Linked DNA regions of Homo sapiens: region 1 is linked to region 2. The links come from fine-mapping of genetic effects on gene expression. Tissue or cell type: testis. Region 2 holds a variant in brackets; the other region holds the start of a gene. All regions are shown on one strand. Distances are from middle to middle.

Region 1 (5,342 bases), 540 kb before region 2:
GCTCATCCCACCACGTTGCAAAGCTGCGCTGAGGCACTGTGGGAAACAGGCAGGAGGTGAGGAGGCTCATCGGGGAATGGCAGCTTACCAGCACTGCTCACTCGCAGCCCTGCTTGCAACAGCAGAGTGAGACGTGCTGGAAACCACGCTGGAGTTAACGCACTTGTCGCTGCGAGCCTCTTCTTTAAAGCCCCTCTGTGATGAGAAACAAAGGCTTTCTCGCCTAGCCGTCGCCCTAGCATCATCTATTATGCATCGTCTTATGCAAAATAAATAAAATACAGAAAACAGCAAGTATCTGTGAAAACAGCATTTTCATAAATTATACAAAAAAGAACCAATTGGAGGAACTTCAAGAAAAAGGTTTGCCAAAATTTCGATCGTAACTTTCAAATTAGGGTCTAAATGAAGTGTTCAAAGACAGTTTTCAGTTTTGTTTCCCCACTCCACCAACATCAGAAGAACATTTAACAGACACGTTACTTTCCGGCCACCATACCTGCCCTTGGAGTGAAACAAGGGTTCATGTATACGAGTCTCCCAGACAGCACGGTTGCTCCGTGTGATGATGGAGCTATTGGGGCCATTAATAAATGCTGACCACCTTGTGGGGGCTGTGTGTGTGTGTGAAGCTCTTCTGAAGCACCTTCCTTCGGTGACTCCACCCCCTGATGGGTTTTCTGCAGATACAGAAATAGGGCAACTCTGGATTAGTGCAGCACATTGTGTGAAGCTCAGAAGTTTCACAGGCAGAGTCCTAGAGCTGTGTTTCTCGATATAGTTTAAGCACTCAAATATCTCGGGTATTGCAGAGAGGAAGTGAGAGAGCTATGTGCCTTCTCAACCCTCGCTGGGAATTATCAGCAGAGCTGAGCTGTGCTGTCATGGGAACAGGGTTGTTGAAGCCAGCCCTGAAGAGGGATGTTGGTTTGATTGTGGTCCTCAGTCTGAGTTGGACTAGAAGGTTCAACATTCTAAAAGGAAAACGCAGAAGCCCTGTCTTTCTGAGGCTTGTCTGCAACATACGCTCATTCCTTCCAAATTATTTGCTGGAAAAAATTTAATAAATAATCATAGAGTAATTAACATGTTCCAGTTCCTGTCTATACTGGTTGATACTGATTCAACGAGTATGAATGAACTTATGAGGTGGGTGACGTTGTTATCCCCAGTTTACAGATGAGGAAACTGAGGCACGGTTTAACTTACCCGAGGTCATAGCAGTAGAGTTAAGATTTGAAATCAAATGTCTTACTCTCTCTCATCAATGAAAACTGAGCTACGATCTATCAGCTCAGCACATAACAACACAGGATCATCCTAATTATTTCCAATGTCCCCCAGAGTGATTCTTTTTTCTTATGATAAAAATTATCTGGAAATTTCTAGGCACATAAGCAGCTGAAAAGGTTGCATGTGAGGCAATGAATAGCAGAAATATTTGTGTGCCATTTTTATATCAACATGTTAATGTGTGCTAATGAATTTTAGAGTGGATTTTTTTAAAAACATGACTATTGTAATTAAAAGCTTATGTGATTTAAATACAAGATGCAATGATGATTACCAGATTCTATTCCTCTTTATATTTTACATAAGACTTCCAGGGTTCCATAAGTATAATCTTGAAACATAGGACATTCCTGGAAAAAAAAATTGCTTAAAACTATTTCAGTGTGCAATCCACCTCTTTGTAAATGTTACTTTCTTCCATCCAAATATTACATTTGGCAACAAAACTCTCCGCTGAGAGCTTTCTCTTCCTTTTGTGTCATTGTTCCCTAAATAAAGCAACACATGAAATTCCTGACGGCAAAAATCAGACTCAGATCCCAAAACCTCTGTCTTTATGCAAGATTTATCTTTTGCATTGGAAACGGCCAAGGAATATGAAGAGGGGAAAGAAGAGGCAAACAGACAAGCATGCAGGCTCTGAGGAATAAATGCCCCTCAGGACGCTGTCTCCTGGGGAATTGCAAACCTCAGTCCGTTTCTGAGGAAGTGCGGTCTCTGCATTTCTGAAAGAGGTATTTCCCCCCCTTGACACAAGGAGCATGGTAATGAATTGACTAGTTAAAAACTGTTGGTTGGAAAAACCCGTCCCTGTGTCTTTCTGAGCAGGGCGAGCTGAGCTGTCCGCGAGGCTGCGGCAGGAGGCCTCGTCCTCCCGGGCAGGGTCCCTCCTGGAGGCTCCCCCGGTCTCTCCCAGACGCACCCGCGCCGCGTCCTTGTTCCCCGGGAGCAGCCTCCCTCCAGCCGCCGGTCCTGGGAGCTTCACCGTCCAAACGGGAGCTGAGTTTGCAAGCGGCCAGGCGGCGGTGCGGCTGGTGCTGCTGCTGATGTCAGAGCCAGAAAGCAGTTGTGATTGGATCTAATTAGACGCTGCTGCAGCAAATAGACAAGCTCCCTGCGTGATTGGCTTCAAAGTGGCTGGTGCCAAACAACTAGCAGAGGCGCAAAAGTAGCCTCCCTGCGCTGGGAGCCCAGAGCAGGAGGCAGAGCCCGCGGGAAGCTCGGAGCACTCAGGACGCCGCGCGCCCTTCCCCGCCCTCCCTGACCAGGGAGCAGCTCGCTCCAGGCGCCCAGCCGAGGCCCCCAGCCCAGTGGGAGCAAGTCATAGAGAACAATTCGAGAGACAGAGAGACGGAGCGCGCTTTCCTGCTCAGTCCTGAAAAGTGAGCCGCTCCCGGGTTTGCAACCTCAAGCTTCGCAGCAGCGGCGGCGGCGGCTGCCGGGAAGGAGGCAGGTGCAGGTGCAGGAGGGAGGCGGCTCTGGGCTCCGCGCCTGGGTCTCGGCCATGGCCTCGGTCCTGGGGAGCGGCAGAGGGTCTGGAGGGCTGAGCAGTCAACTCAAATGCAAGTCCAAGAGGAGGAGGAGGCGGAGGTCCAAGCGGAAAGGTAAGGACCGCGTGGCGCGCCGGCCCCTGCCCCCCTTCACCCCCGGCTTCTCCACCCCGGCCTCTCATGGGGTCTCCGGGCTTGTCCGTTGTGAGCAGCTTCACTTTGGGGTGCTGGCGGGATGGCTGCTCCGTGCAGGGCGCTCGGGAGTTCAGATCCCGTGGAAATGTCTGGGGCCTCCTCTTGCCCAGAGGGGACAGTGAGCAGCCACGCTGCGACATGTTTGAGGGACCCGGACGAAGTGGGGCGAGGGCGGCGAGGAGCTCCCCGGGGACCCCGCGCGTCTCCGGGCCCCGCAGTCCCCAGTGGCCGGCCGGGCTGGCACTGCCTTCCACCCTCCGGAGGCCATCTCGTCTCCCAGTGCCAAAGGAATTACCCAAAAACGGGGGAACGAGCCCTCGCGCCAGCTACTCCCATCCAAACTGTCCCGGAGGAAGGGATAGGCGAAGCCCTGCGATCGCCTCTCCAAATTGGCTGGCAGTTTTTACTCAATGTGGTGCCCGTCGATTTGTAAACATTGGGTCGTAAAGAGAACACAGGGCTCGTCCTTGGAGAAATAAGCAGAAATGAATACAGGAAAACAGAAAGAAGCATCATATTTTGTTAGTGGTAGAAAAAAACCGCAAACCAGGAAAGCAGGAAAAGCAGCCGGCTGACAGCGGCCACTGACAAACTCAGCTGTGCCTTGTTACTGATATTCCTGGGGCTGGGCCGCGCTGAAGTTAGTCAATGCTACAGCAAGGGAGGGCTTTCACACTGGGGATTTTGCAAAATTAGCAATCGCTCCAATATGAGAGCAATGCCCCCAGTGCCATCGTAGCCTGTGTGCATGCCAGGAAGAATTAAAAGATTCTTCTCATGCCGACCCTTCTCTCCTAGAGGAACCTGTGTTATTGTCAGTTCCTAGTGAGCCTGCAGGAGAAAGTTCAGTTCTAATCATGATTTGAAATGTGCTGATTTTTTTTAAGTGAGGTAGAAGTATAAAGAACGGTTGGAAAAACACAGCTAGAATTGATCAGCTTTGCCAGTTGTTTGAAAGCAGGAGGCAACGTTAGGTGTGTTTGGGGTTGTCCATCTTTCCTGAAGAATTTTCATCTTTGCATTGGCCTAAGATAAGTTTCTACCAGACCGTTTCCTGTGTGCCCTCGAACCGTCACCAGGTCCTTTATTGCCTCTTCCAATAATAGAAATTATCCAGACAGTCAGCAGGCATAAATGTCAATAGCAAACAGTCATTCATTATGACCGAACGTCAGGACCACTGGGAGGGATTGGCCCCCACAACTTCCTCAAAAGGTTTTGGAGCCTTTGGTTTCAGAAGGGAGGTGATGTTGTGGTTCTCATTTACCTCTCAGCTGCTAAGTGTGCGCTTGCGATTCACTTTGTTGTTTGAAATTATCATTTTGAAACAGACCTGTTAGTGTCCTCCAAAGATAATGCCAACACAAAGTGGCATTGATATTGAGAAAGTCACCGGATTGAATAATGAATATGACTTTTAAAAGAGGAAAAAGGAAGCATCATCTTTACACTTGAAATGTTCACATTTCCCAATATTTTTTGATTAGTCTATTTAAATATTTAGAGTTGAAGAATGTGGAGTAATAGTTCGCAATAATGCATTTTATAAATATAAACAGGAGGAAAGTGTTGCCTTTCTCCAAATTCACTTGCCTTGCCAGGAAGCGTCAGTCATGCTAGCTTAGAAAGTATTCAATTTAGGGGGAAAAAGGAAATCTGGGGAAAGACTTCATTTGCTATAAACTTAACTTTAGCAATTCAAAATAAAACTCCTATAGCAAATATTTCCATACCTTGGTTATTTTGAATATGTCAAGTCCCTTAATTTTCATAGCCAAAAATTGAAGCGGGAAAGGGCATTCAGGTTTTGTACACTGATTTCTGTTACGAAGAGATTTCTGGCGTGCGGGAGAATTTCCCAGGGCACCTGCCGGCAGCTATCTTGATAGGAAAGTCAAATCAAACGGCTAAAGATTCAATTTTTGGGGAAACGTTAACCATGTAGATGTAACTGATCAAATTAAAAGGTAAAGTAACCAGCTAAGAGACACATTAAATAATTATTTGCATTTTCCTGGGAATTGATTACTTCATCTATGATACCTAGTTATTACAGATGCTGATATTTTTTATTTTATAAAAACAATGGTGAGTTTAAATTATGTTCTAATTGTCATGAATCTTAACAACCATAAATGAATAGAATAACCTCAATTTTAAGCTTATCTGATATTAAAACTCTATACTTGCCACAATTTAAAATCCACGTGTGTATGAGAGACTGTTAAGGAATTTAGTGTGGCTCTATTAGGTGCTAACTGAAGACACTGACAGAAGCACAAGGTAAGGGCTGTTCTTATGGGGGAATAAAGACAATTAAGATACATGCTGACCCTGTTGCCTGTCAGATGCGTATTTCTACCT
Region 2 (5,342 bases):
GTGCTCTTGGCATTTTTGCTTGAGGAAGCAAAAACATTCACCCAGAGCTATATTTATTTCAAACAAAATGGCCTTGTTGTTCATCTCCAATCTGGGCTTCTGAAACCAAAATCATGCCCAGACCAAAACAAGGTCATTTGTTAATGTAATTTCAACACAATAGGTCATTTTGACTGCTAAGGACAAAGGGAGTACTAAGTATTTTTCCCTAAACTAAAATAAACAAATTCCATTTATAGTATTTCCCAGCTAATATAAAGAAAAATTCAGATTCACTTTTGGGACAGAGTATCTTTTTAAAAAAATCTAATTCTAAGTCCCACAGAGAACATAACAGTTTCCACTCTAACGACTCATTTTCAGAAAAGAGAGCAGCATTTGTTAGCACACATGGGCCTGTGGAGCCCAGTCCCAGGCAACAGTGTCCCCAGAGCCCCAGTGATGGCTGGGTTGGGTCTGGGGCACTCCCAGGGAGCTCCCCAAGGTCCGCACGATGGGAAGACTGACAGGTCCTCAGGACCAGGCCGCAGACGGACAGAGAGGACCAGGCTCCCTGGGCTCCTGGGTGGGGCTCCGCTGACTGCTGGCTCTCCCCACAGGTGGAACGTCCTGGGGCTGCAGGGCGCGCTCCTGTCCCACTTCGTGGAGCCCGTGTACCTGCAGAGCATCGTGGTGGGCAGCCTGCACCACACGGGCCACCTCGCACGCGTCATGAGCCACCGCATGGAGGGTGTCGGCCAGCTGCCCGCCTCCTACCGGCACAACCGGCCTCTCCTCAGCGGTAAGAACCCCCTTCCCGGGGGCCCTCCACCTCCTTCCCACCACCAGGCCAGACACAGGTGTGCCCGGCGGTGCCATCCCTCGCAGACTTCATCCATGTTGGCTAGTGGCAATTTAGGATTTAATGGGCAAAGTCCTACGATTTTAAAAAGAAAAAATGAAAGGTTTCAGCATCTCTCTGCATATAGCAATAGGCCAGGTCCTGATGTGAATTCGTGATTGTGTGATGGTGCTGTTTTCACAGCGGTGTCTGAAGGAGTTCTGAAAACAGAATCACTAGTGTTGGGCTCACCCAAGAGGCCCCACCTGCCCACCTGGCCGCCCACCTGCCCACCTGCCCACCTGGCCGCCCACAGGAGGCGATGCTGAGGAAGAGCCAGGTGGGCGAGGAGGGGCGGGGGGCGCCAAGGTCACGTGGCCAGAGCGGGTCTTCGGAACCCAGGGCCCCGGGCCCTCCACACCCTCCAGAGGCTGCCAGGTTACTCCGCGAGTACTGGGCCGGCTTCGCACCAGGATTCCCCACAGCCCAGATGTCCTCAGAGACCCGAGCCTCCCCAAGCCTCTACTTCCCCACGTTACCTGGGGCCTGCCCGGGCTGCCTGGCACACAGCCAGCTGCAAGGATGAAGAGTCCCTTGGCAGCTGCGAGGTGCCCTAGAAAGCCCCGGGAGTGGTCTTGGGAGGGTTTTGTGAAGGACACACTGACAGGAGGCGACTCCTGGCCTTTCACAGGAACAGCGGGAAGCGGGGGGGTGGGTTTCCGAATCACCGCCAGCCTCATGCTGGGCCTGCAGAACACCAGGTCTTTGAGTCAGCCTCCCTTGCTGGAGTGGGAGAGCTCTCTGAAGGGCCTGCCTGTGGCAGAATCAGGCAGATATGTGGGGGAAACGGAGAAAACCTCTGCCCCAGAAAGGAGAGGATTTTCACCTGTTTGCCAAGTGGCTCCTGCACTCTTTTTCTGCGCGTTTTCCTTAGGCCATCCCCGCTCTTTGTCCAGCACCTACTGAAGGGCTTATTTAAGCTTGCGCAGCACAAGGAAATATGGAGTACAAATGCAACCACGCCCTCCCCAAGCCACCGTCAACGGAGCAGGTTTTGCCCTCCCTGGGCACTGGCATGTCACCCTCAGCAGCCAGTCTCCCAGTGCTGATTTTCAATCATGTGTCCATCTGGGAACATGTCAACATAAATAAAAACAGGAATGTCCAATCCTAAGTGTGAACACAGTGAATTTTAGAAAACGCAATTAGAGAAATTCAGATCCACCTGACATCATTGAGTGGCACAGATAATAGCCAAGCCCGAGAGACACCTGTCTGCTTCCGATCCCAGGTGGCACCTGCCACACCACGGCCGGTGCAGCCTGACTAAATATTTCAGCCTCCATTTACATGCTTATTGGGAATCTGGTTTTCATTATTTTGCAGATGCAAATGAGCCTAAATCTTGGTACCTTGCCTGCATGCAACCCCTAAGCTGTCCCTGCATTGTTCCTGATGGACATTTAAAAACCAATCATGCAAATTTTGAAAAGAAATCATCAGAATTTCTTGCACCAAAAGAAAGAGAGAGAGAGATCTTGCACAGGGATAATAATAAAAAGCACCCTCAAATAAGCAAATGAAGTTTGCTTGAAGCTTCCCTCAAGGTCAGTTTGCAGAACTGCCTTAGAAGATGAAGATTATGTATTAGCAGAATGAGGCCCAGCAATTTAGATATGGCTAAATCAGCTCTGAGTTAAAAAGAAGCAACCAAGCTGAAAAAGATACCCTTACTCACACAGTCACGGGATGCATAGTAATGTTCTTGAAGGATATACTTGAAAAATTCTGCACTTTCCAGTCTAAATCTATGGCAAAACTTCAGGACCAGAAGCCCATTTCGAGG[A/C]TGTCTCAAACGCTGAATCCTTCAGCAAAAGTTGCATTATTTCCTGAGTACAGATAGCCTAAAGGAGTTTGCCCTTGGTCCTTCTCAGTGAATTCAGTAAGATGAACAAAATGATGGGGATAGTAATTAATAAAACTCTATGCTTTGAATAATCATCCTTTTAGGAAAAAGTGAGATGAAATAGCCACTTTGACAGGCTGTTCCACCAAGCTGAGGATATATGCTTCTCTGAGCTTTCAACATCAAGGCTAAATTTTTATTTCTCTTCATCAAGAAAAAAAGAAATCTGGGTAGGATAAATTCGCTGTTTGTGTTAACAGCATGTTAAACAGATATGTTGTCAATGATTAATTTCTTAGTCCACACTGAAGATAAAACTGTGATTATTTTTACAGCCCACCTCAAGGTCTTGGCAACGAACATGAAATCTGAGAGATGGACCCAGAGAATTGATTGTTAGAACCATGACTTGTTTAAGACTCTTGGTTTATGTTCACGTGATGAACATTGCAGTGCTGGTGATAAAATAGAGGAGAGCACGGGCTGTCTTCCTCCACAGCACACAATTTCCTGGAGTGTGAAAAGGGCCAGCTGGGGCGTCTGAAGCCCTTTCAGGCATCCATGTTTCACAGCAAAACCATTTGTCAGAAAAGAAGTTAGATACGTACTGAAATGTGAAGTCACATATGTACTGAAATGTGTACCAATACTAATAGCTTCTGAAATTTCCCAATGCCACCTATTTTTGGCATTCAAAGTCTCTCTCTGTTGCCATTTATGTCCATTTTTTTTATGAGTCCAGATTTTCAAAATGTTGTCACACTAAGTTGAGGAAAATTCTATGGAGTATCAGACCTCTTTAATTCAGGAGAAATTTCTGAAATTAATGATAATTAAGAGTATTTTGCAAAATAACATAGTGAAGCAGTAGCAAATATTTTATCCAGATGGTAAGTGATTTGCAATATTATTTTTACATTAAACAGAGGTCTATTTTGGAGTAACCTACAAAATTTTTACAAATGTTTAGTAATAAACACATAAGCATTACAGAAATATTTTAGCAGCCTGCTGTTTCTTACAGTCACTAGAGCTAGAAATTTATCTTCCCATGCCCTTGCAGGAATTTTTGGTGGAAAAAATTATAAATCTTGCTAGAACAATCTAAAAGGCAGTCTTAGCTAAGCGTGGTGGCTCATGCCTGTAATCCGAGCACTTTGGAAGGCTGAGGTGGGAGGATCACTTGAGGCCAGGAGTTTGAGACCAGCCTGGCCAACATAGCCAGACCCCATGTCTACAGAAAGAAAAAAGAAAGAAAGAAAAGAAATCCTAATATCTTTTCATGAAAACTAAAAAAGTTAAATTCAACAAAGAACTACTTAATAAGACATTTTTATAGATTAGCACAGAACTTTCTAGGCAAATTAGATGGCACATAGCTTATGATAAATATAAAATTATTGAAAAACTTTGTTTTCATTTTCTGGAGAATCCTTTTAAAAATATTTTGTATAATAATTAATTTTCATTTAATTTCCACCATGATCTTAAGGAATTGTTTCCCAGTAGAATTTAAGCAACGAACTTAATTACATTGCTCCTGAGAATTGTATCATTAACTCCAGGAAAATACTTCCATTGTCAATACATTAAATGTATCCAACATCGAGAAATTGATCAGCATAATCCAGGCATTTGCTTAATCATTCAGCAAATGTGTATTGATGATTTACAAAGTGCCGGGCACAATCCTACATTGAGAATAGAGCAGTGAACAAAATAGTCAAAAATCCATACCTCAGGGTGATTGCATTCCAGTAGGGGAGACGGACAAACAAAATATGAGTGCTTTGTCAAAAAAAAAAAAAAAAAAAGGCAAAAGAAGGATTAAAAAGTGACCCTCAGCCCTAATAAAAGGATCAGGAGCACTCTCAGTGTGGCGGTGACACTGCGCAGAGTCCTAGAGGAATGAGGGAATGGAGCTGGGAGAAGGGCTCCCACAGGGTTTTGGGAAACAGGCAGGGTTGGGCTGAGAGTGTGAGGTAAGCGGACGGGAGAGAGAGGCACTCTGGAAAGGCTGCAGCGGGCTTCCTCTCCCTTCTCACCAAGGGAAGATTCCAGCTGGTTTCAGGCTGCTGTTTGGTTCCCCAGACCTGAAACAATCACATGGGCCTCGATTCAGTGGGGTTACGAAGGTGGTCACAGGGCTAACGGGAAAAGCACAGACTAGGACGGTGCCATAAAAGCCAACTGGCCCCCACCATCATCTTAGGATGCCAGACTCTCCCCACTGTGCTTTGCTGGCTCGGGGGCTAGAAAGCCTCACCCTGCTGCAGTGAGCCATACCTCCCTTCAGAAGCCTCGGGCTAAGAGCACCATCCCTCTTCTTCTGAACCAGGATCAGCCTCTCCATGGATTCAGAAGCCTCAGGCTGATAGCACCATCCCAATTCTTCTGAACCAGGATCAGCCTCTCCATGGACATCCCTCATTGCTCACAGCCACACCCCTGGAGTCAAAACTCTGAGCTTTCTCTGGCATGAAAACCTTTCAACGTCGTCTCTGCCTAGATGTGCTCTCCCACCCAGGCCTGCAAAACTCTGCCATTCTGAGAGAGAAATGTTTGCCAGTCATAAAACTTAACAAGGGACTAAAGACCCTTATCTTAAAAAAAAAA

Evidence for each region. PIP is the estimated chance that this variant, and not a neighbour inherited with it, causes the effect.
Region 1: ADARB2 starts here. The variant in region 2 is fine-mapped to the expression of ADARB2 in testis (GTEx, PIP 0.99).

What each region holds. Positions count from the first base shown.
Region 1 is chr10:1,734,606-1,739,947 of GRCh38, reverse strand. It overlaps ADARB2 (adenosine deaminase RNA specific B2 (inactive)), which reads left to right and starts at 2,423. Exons shown (of 10, transcript NM_018702.4): 1 at 2,423-2,897. The coding sequence starts at 2,798. RefSeq lists a silencer at 2,474-2,533 and an enhancer at 2,495-3,091.
Region 2 is chr10:1,195,405-1,200,746 of GRCh38, reverse strand. ADARB2 (adenosine deaminase RNA specific B2 (inactive)) reads left to right here. Exons shown (of 10, transcript NM_018702.4): 8 at 600-781. Among named protein-coding and RNA genes, the nearest start is that of LINC00200, 38 kb to the right of the region's middle. The variant A/C (reference allele first, on the strand shown) is at 2,667.